2 linked regions of the Homo sapiens genome follow. The protein of the gene in region 2 purifies or fractionates together with the protein of the main gene of each other region. This does not show direct contact. Each region holds a gene or a part of one and is shown on either strand. Other genes may lie near its edges.

Region 1 (3,646 bases), on a different chromosome or scaffold from region 2:
AGCTGGAGGCATGAAACAAGGGCGTGGCTGAGTCCGGGGCAGGAGCCGGTGCTGGGTGGCTGAGTCCGGGGCAGGAGCCGGTGTGGGCTGTGCCTTCGTCCCCACCGGCGCTCGCTCCTGCCCTGACACTAGCAGGCGGTGGCCAGCCGGGCCCCACTGCACAAGACGCCCCTCAGCTGAGTGTCACAGAGGGAGGGAACAAGCGAGAGGGCCCAGATGGCCAGAGACGGGGAGGGGGCAGGGTGCCCACAGGGCAGAAGACAGCTCGGACATCGCCAGCCTCTTGGGAATTTTGTCTGGGGCCACTCTCAGGCAAAGAAATTTGCTTTTTTACCTACTCCTTCCTACTTCTCACAGCCCCAGGGCCTTAGAACTCACACCGAAGCTCCAGGACTATGGTTCTGCTGTGTTACAGATGAAAGGGTCATCTCATCTTGGGCAACCTGGGAATCTGTTCACCACATTTTTCTTTTTCTAAAGAGAAAACTTCCATGTTCTAGTAAATGGCTTGCAAATGACATTTTAGGACACAGTTCTTCCAAAGGACTGTATGAGACAGTGACAGCAAAAACGCTAGCTGGAATAGGAAGATCCGGATGTGAATCCTGGCCCCCAGCTTGGTAGAACTGTCGCCTTGGGTTAGTGACACCAGTTCTGTGGGCAGGAGCTTCTTCCTCTATAAAACGAGTCTAATGCCTCTCCCAACTGCTCAGAAAGGCTGCTGTGAGGGTCCCGGAGAAATGCAACACTCTCTGCTGTGAGTCGAAGGGTCTTATCTCTATCTGAAATCAATTTATTGTAGCATGTGTTTGCGTATTAGAGAGTTATGGGAACCTATTCACCACACTTTTTTCTCCAAAGAGAAAGCTTTAGAGAGAATAGCCACAAGTGGGTTTTATGTCCCTAATGTGGAATAATCCCAACTTCTCCATTCTCCCCATGGTGGTATATAGCTTATGTGCTAGACTTTGTGCCAAGCCATCTTATGACAATTTCTAAAATTTGACAATGAAAGATTCTGTACACTGAGATCCTATTAGACCAACACAGCCTGTAGGCCAGAGGTGGGCCAACTTGGGCCTCGGGTCAAATCCAGCCTGCCATCTGTCTTTGTGCAGCCTGCAAGCTGAGGATAGCTTTCACATTTTTAAGTGGTTGGAAAAAAATCAAAAGCATAATATTTTGGGACACATAAAAAATTATATGAACTTCAGTGTTCATAAATCATTGTATTGGCACACAGCCACACCATCTACGAATGGCTTTTTGCAGTTGAGTACTTGCGATAGACTGCGTGGCCTGCAAAGCTGAAAATATGTGCGATCTGCCCTCTCCCAGAAACTCTGCTGGCCCACATCCTTGCAGATGAAGCCCTGGAGTGCTAAGACAAGGCCTCGGCCCCTCTGGGCCACCGTCCGGGCCTTCTTTTGGTGCCCCCTGCTCTGCTCACCAGGCGCTTTGCTTTGGCTACAGGCTCACAACTGCTCAGGCCACACCTGCTCCAAAGCACACACCCTGCCACCTGCTCAGCCCTCCCTGCCTCAGGTACTCACCAGACTCACCTGCCCGCCGCAACACAGGTTCTCCCCCTGGTTCCCTCAGAGGCACATGCTGGGCTCACCCCAGGCCAGAATGAGGAAGAACTGGATGGACAGATTATTTTCTTAAAAACAGGGGCATTTTGACAACCTGGTGGTGAAAATACACACACACATGCACATGCACACACACACAAAATATCACTGTTTTTAAAGACAGTGACAATACAACTTAGCAATCATTCCACCAGGTACCAAACCTTATTCTCCAGCCAGAACTTCAAAAGCACAATCTCCAATTCTTATTAAAGCACACATTACTTATCCTAACATCTACTTATGGGTGCGAGAGCCTCCACTCCCCACCCTGCTAAATGCAGAGGTGTAGGCAGGGTTGGAGAAGCCTCTCTGACCGACATTCCAACACAGTCCCTGCTAGGAACCAACACCTTTAACCTCTCCCCTTGATTAGTTGATGACTAAGGATCAGGAAACCTCCCTCTAGGCTGACTTCTCCAGGTGTGGTCTATAGACAGCCACACCTCTGAACTCCCTCAGGGTCACAGCCGCCTGACTCAAAGTGCAGACACCTGGAAAGAGGCATCCCAATTCAACAACTTCTATCCACCAACCAGATTTCCAGGTCTTCATCCGCAGCTTGTCAGAAATGCATAAACCTTAAGCCTTACTTGAGACCTACTGAATCAAAATCTGCATTCTAACCAATCCCAAGGTTACAGCTCGAGAAGCCCAATCTGCGTCTTCTCCTTGGACACTACGTAGACTCCCTCCCTGGATAGAGCTTGTCTTTGCTAGTGTCTTTATAACACACCATTTTCTATATTTTTAGAATGAAACGTTCTTCTCAGTGCATAGCAAGAGGAATGAAATAAACAACAAGAATAAAAAACAATCTAGCTGTTATCCAATTCCAAATTCTGGTGAATTCAACTGTTTCTTCATGGGAATTTTCTGGTAGGTTACTAGAGAAGTTGTCAATACCTTATTAAAAGGGATGGATTCACCAAGAAAATGAGGATGATACGTGTTGGGTTTCTCCAAGGAATTCACTGCTAGTAAATGAGACCATGCGAGTTACAGCTTCATAAACAACGAAGCATCATGTAAATGGCTATTAACACTGATAATGATCATTAATACTAATAATCATAAGACGGAGAATAACCCCATAATTTCCTGAGTAACTCAGTAATAATAAAATAAAGGAAATATCAACAGTGTGGTTGGAGTTGGTTGGTTTAAAGGTCAGCAAGACTTTACTCCTAAATTAGGCTTGATACCAAGCAGCTAACCAAATCCTAAGGAAGCCCAGCGTGTTTCTGTCACTTTTCTTGGGGAGCAGTTCATCCACGATGGACCTTTATCTGATGAAACCAGGAACACCTGCCTTCTTTTGAACTGGAGCTTATGTTAACACTTTCTGCTAGGATTCCTGTTGCCTATGTATCTCGGCTTCATTTATCCAAAGCGATTTTTCCACCTTAGAAGAGTCCGGACAGCAAACCCTGAACTCAGTGCTCAGTGCCCAGGTCTGCTCTGCTCAGAGTCAGGCTCCGCTCCTCCACCTGGATGGAGAGGGTGGCCATGGTCATGGTCCAAGGTGGGGTTCCTGGAGGAAGGCAGGCACATCAGGACTTCTGATGGGGCCGCGCACAACCTAACAAGACCTCTACAGCCCATCCTCACCAGTTCCCTTTTGGCAAGTGGAAAAGGGGCATGCACTATTCGTGCTGAAGGCTGGGCAAGCTGCAGACACAAAAATTGGTTGCAATGGAAACCTGAAGCAGAGGACATAGGTACCAAGTTCTGCTGTGCCCCGTGGTGAGGAAGCAGGGGGAGGTGGAGCCCTCTGGAGTAATTTTTCCTTGACTGGTGAGGTGGGTCCTGAGGATGAAGGGTACAGGGCAGGCCCCAGCAGGCAGGAGATTCCAGGTGTAGTAAAAAGTGCTCCCGGATGTGAGTGGATGGAAAAGGGCAGATGAGCAGGTGGCAAGGTCACCACCTCTTTCTGGGAATGGGACTGGCTGTCAAGTTTCAGAGGGGATCTTGCAGGGCGGCTGGGTGGGAGGTGAGCCAGATCCTGTCAC
Region 2 (3,646 bases):
GATCATCAGGTCCATGTCATAGGGTTGCTGTGAGGATCAAATCAGAAAATGGATGGGAAAGACTGGGCATGTAGGAAACCCTCATAGATGATGTTTGCAGGGGTTCCTTGTTCCTGCCCCCCATGAACACTCACCTTCCATCTTTATGTTTTATGTTTTGTTTTTGGTTTTGTTTTTCTTTGAGACGAAGTTTCACTCTTGTTGCCCAGGCTGGAGTGCAATGGCGTGATCTAGGCTCACTGCAACCTCCACCTCCCGGGTTCAAGCGATTCTCCTGCCTCAGCCTCCCATTACAGACCTCATGTGATCCACCCACCTTGGCCTCCCAAAGTGCTGGGATTACAGGCATGAGCCACCGCACCTGGCCTGTTTTATGTTTTATGTTCCCTGCTTTATGTTTTGTCTCATTTTCTGTTTTCTTCTCTCTTCTTTCTTCCTCTTTCTTTTGCTCCTTGTTAGCCTTCCCCCTTCCAAATGCCCAGGGCTCCACTAGAGCAGTTTGGCCCCAGTTGTAGCTCTTGATGCCTCAAGGCCACTGACTCCTCATTGGGTATGTTTTTTCCAGCCTTTGGGATTCTTTTTTTTTTTTTTTTCTCCTTGTGACGGGGCTTTGCTCTTGTTGCCCAGGCTGGAATGCAATGGCTCATGATCTCTGCTCACTGCAACCTCCACCTCCCAGACTCAAACAATTCTCCTGCCTCAGCCTCTGGAGTAGCTGGGGTTACAAATAGGCACCTGCCACCATGGTGGCTAATTTTTGTATTTTTAGTAGAGACGAGGTTTCACCATGTTGGCCAGGCTGGTCTCAAACTCCTGACCTCAGGTGATCCACCTGCCTCGGCCTCCCAAAGTGCTGGGATTATAGACATGAGCCACCGTGCCCAGGTGGCTTTGGGATTCTCGAACAGGGATGACCTCCAGCCAACTCTAAACAGAGAAATCTAAACCTGGGATCTATACCTAGTGTTACATTTTGTTCCCTTAGATTCTATGAACAGGGCTGGAACAGGCTGGTAACAAGAAGAGCTGCTGTGTCTTGTTGTTGTTTTGGTTTTGTTTGTTTGTTTGTTTTTTGAGGTGGAGTGTTACTCTGTTGCCAGGCTAGAGTGCAGTGGCATGATCTGAGCTCACTGCAACCTCTGCCTCCTGGGTTCCAGCGATTCTCCTGACTCCGCCTCCCGAGTAGCTGGGATTACAGGTGCCCACCACCACACCTGGCTAATTTTTGTATTTTTTCTCTTTTTTTTTTTTTTTTTTTTTTTAGGGGGGACGGAGTCTCACTCTGTCTGTCACCCAGGCTGGAGTGCAGTGGCACGATCTCAGCTCACTGCAAGCTCTGCCTCCCAGATTCACGCCATTCTCCCACCTCAGCCTCCTGAGTAGCTGGGACTACAGGTGCCCGCCACCACGCCCGGCTAATTTTTTGTATTTTTAGTAGAGACAGGGTTTCACTGTGTTAGCCAAGAAGATGTCGATCTCTTGACCTTGTGATCCACCCTACTCAGCCTCCCAAGTGCTATGATTACAGGCGTGAGCCACCACGCCTGGCCAAATTTTTGTATTTTTAGTAGAGATGGGGTTTCACCGTGTTGGTCAGGCTTGTCCCAAACTCCTGACCTCAGGTGAGCCACCTGCCTCAGCCTCCCAAAATGCTGGTATTACAGGTGTGAGCCACCACTCCCGGCCTGGAGCTGCTGTGTCGAGGGTAGGCAGAGCTTGGCTGGAAGTGAGTGCTGCCCAGAGAGCCAGGACTCCTGGGCTCCAGCTCAACCCTGCTATGGAAAACCATCCTTGGTCAATGTCTTGCTTTTCCTATTTGCAAATCAGGCAGAACCATAGCTCCTTCCTAGGTCTCTCAGGCCAGGCCAAGAAATGGTAAGGGATGTTTAGAAGATCCTGTGACTTTAAGGTGCTCGGCAGAAAGCCATGTGGGCTACTGGGGAATTCCTCCCTCTGGATGTGGACCACAGAGTATCTGAGTGCAATGGCAAGTATTTGTTCATGTCCTCTACTCATTTGTTGTTTGGGACATTCCTTGACATGACTCTTACTATCTTCTTCAGTCAGGATTCTTTACTTTTTATTGAAGTATGCCATTCTTCAGAGTACATATAATGAAAGTACAGCTTGGTGAACTTTCACAAACTGAACACACCCATGTAATTAGCACTGTCAGAGAGAAACAACGCAGGGCCAGCCCCCAGAAGCTCTGCCCCTGCACCCTTCCCACCTCACCCCACCAAGGGTTTCACTGTCACTATCTAATCACCACTCTTGGGTGTAAGTGACAGAAACTCATCTCCCAAGGACTTAAGCAGAAAGTGAATGCTTCCCTCAGCTGAGGGGTCCATGGGTAAGCCTTGCACAACTGGATCCAAATGCTTAGATGGTGCTGTCAGCTTGCCTGTGAACTTTCTCTGCTGAGTTCTCTTCTGTTGTTGATTTTAAACCTAGGCAGTTTCCTCTTCCCTTGTGATCAACAAAACTCCAGAATTGCAGTTGAGCAGATGTCCCATTCCTAGGCCAATAGTTCTGTGTGGGCTGGGGGGGCAGGGTCAGTGTGTGGAATATAGAGGTGGGTCTGTCTTGGGACACATGACCCTTAGGAGCCGGGAGTGGTGGATCAGCCCCATCTGAGCCACATGCACTTTTGAGTGGGTGAGGGTGATTCCCCAGGGAAAAGCCTAGAGACTGTTATCAGAAGGAAAAACGGGTACTGAGTGGACAGAACCAAGCATGTCCAGTGCACCTGTGCAGTGCTGATCCTCACACTAGTCACCGGAGAACAGGTGTTCGCTTGCGAAAAACCACAATCCAAAGTTCCGGGTTGCTCACAGGCAAGAAGGGAAAGCAAAGTACAATGCAGGGCAGAGTGGGGCATGCCTTGACAGGCACAGAGGAGGTGGCTGCAGGCGAGGCTGAAATGCCTCCCAGTGGGAGTCAGGGCTGCGCACTCATAGCATGGGTGAGGGAGTTGGGAGAGATGGAGCTTGTTTGATGAACACTGATTATTCCCGGCCATCTGAAGCCTGGGATATGGGAGATAAGGCTGGAAAGCTGAAGGTTACTGAAAAGGAGAATGACAGGATCAGATGTGTGGTGTAGGCACCTCTGGGGGCAACTGTACAAGATGGACTGAAGGGAGGCCAGGTGGGGACTTTGCTGGAATCCAGGAGATAAGGATGCAGCCAGGACCAGCATGACCCTCCCGCGGCTGGATGTCCAGGCCATCCACTGGGACACCATCAGGTCCCTTGACCGTCACATAGCCAGATGTGTCTTCAGTGTCCCCAACTTGATTGTCAGCTCTGCCAGGATCGGGATCCTGAGCACTGGCTTTCCTGGATGAATCTTTTGCTGATCTTATCTCTTCTCTATTTTCCAACCTTTATCTGTCATTTATGTTTTTTGTTCTACTTTTCACATCTTTTAAATTTTTCTTTCAACGTTTCTAATATCTAATGCAATTAGCCCCAAGGAAAACTAAGGGAAACAAGAAAAAACAAGAAAGGAAATGTACTCTCAGTACTTCAGCTGTGAGCTGTGAGCTTCAGCTGTGAGCTGGAGTGTTTTGCTCTGGTTTTAGGTTTTTGATTTTTTTTAAGAAAGAGGGTCACACTCTGTTGCCCAAGCTGGTGAGCAGTAG

What was found. The genes of interacting proteins can lie anywhere in the genome.
Region 1: the proteins of CHST6 (region 2) and GLB1L2 purify together in Homo sapiens (affinity purification with mass spectrometry; 2 studies listed by BioGRID and IntAct, with this or other methods). This does not show direct contact.

What each region holds. Positions count from the first base shown.
Region 1 is NC_000011.10:134,338,369-134,342,014, reverse strand, and holds part of GLB1L2 (beta-galactosidase-1-like protein 2 isoform b precursor), read right to left. Parts: intron 1-3,646.
Region 2 is NC_000016.10:75,485,423-75,489,068, reverse strand, and holds part of CHST6 (carbohydrate sulfotransferase 6), read left to right. Parts: intron 1-3,646. UniProt on the Homo sapiens protein: Sulfotransferase that utilizes 3'-phospho-5'-adenylyl sulfate (PAPS) as sulfonate donor to catalyze the transfer of sulfate to position 6 of non-reducing N-acetylglucosamine (GlcNAc) residues of keratan.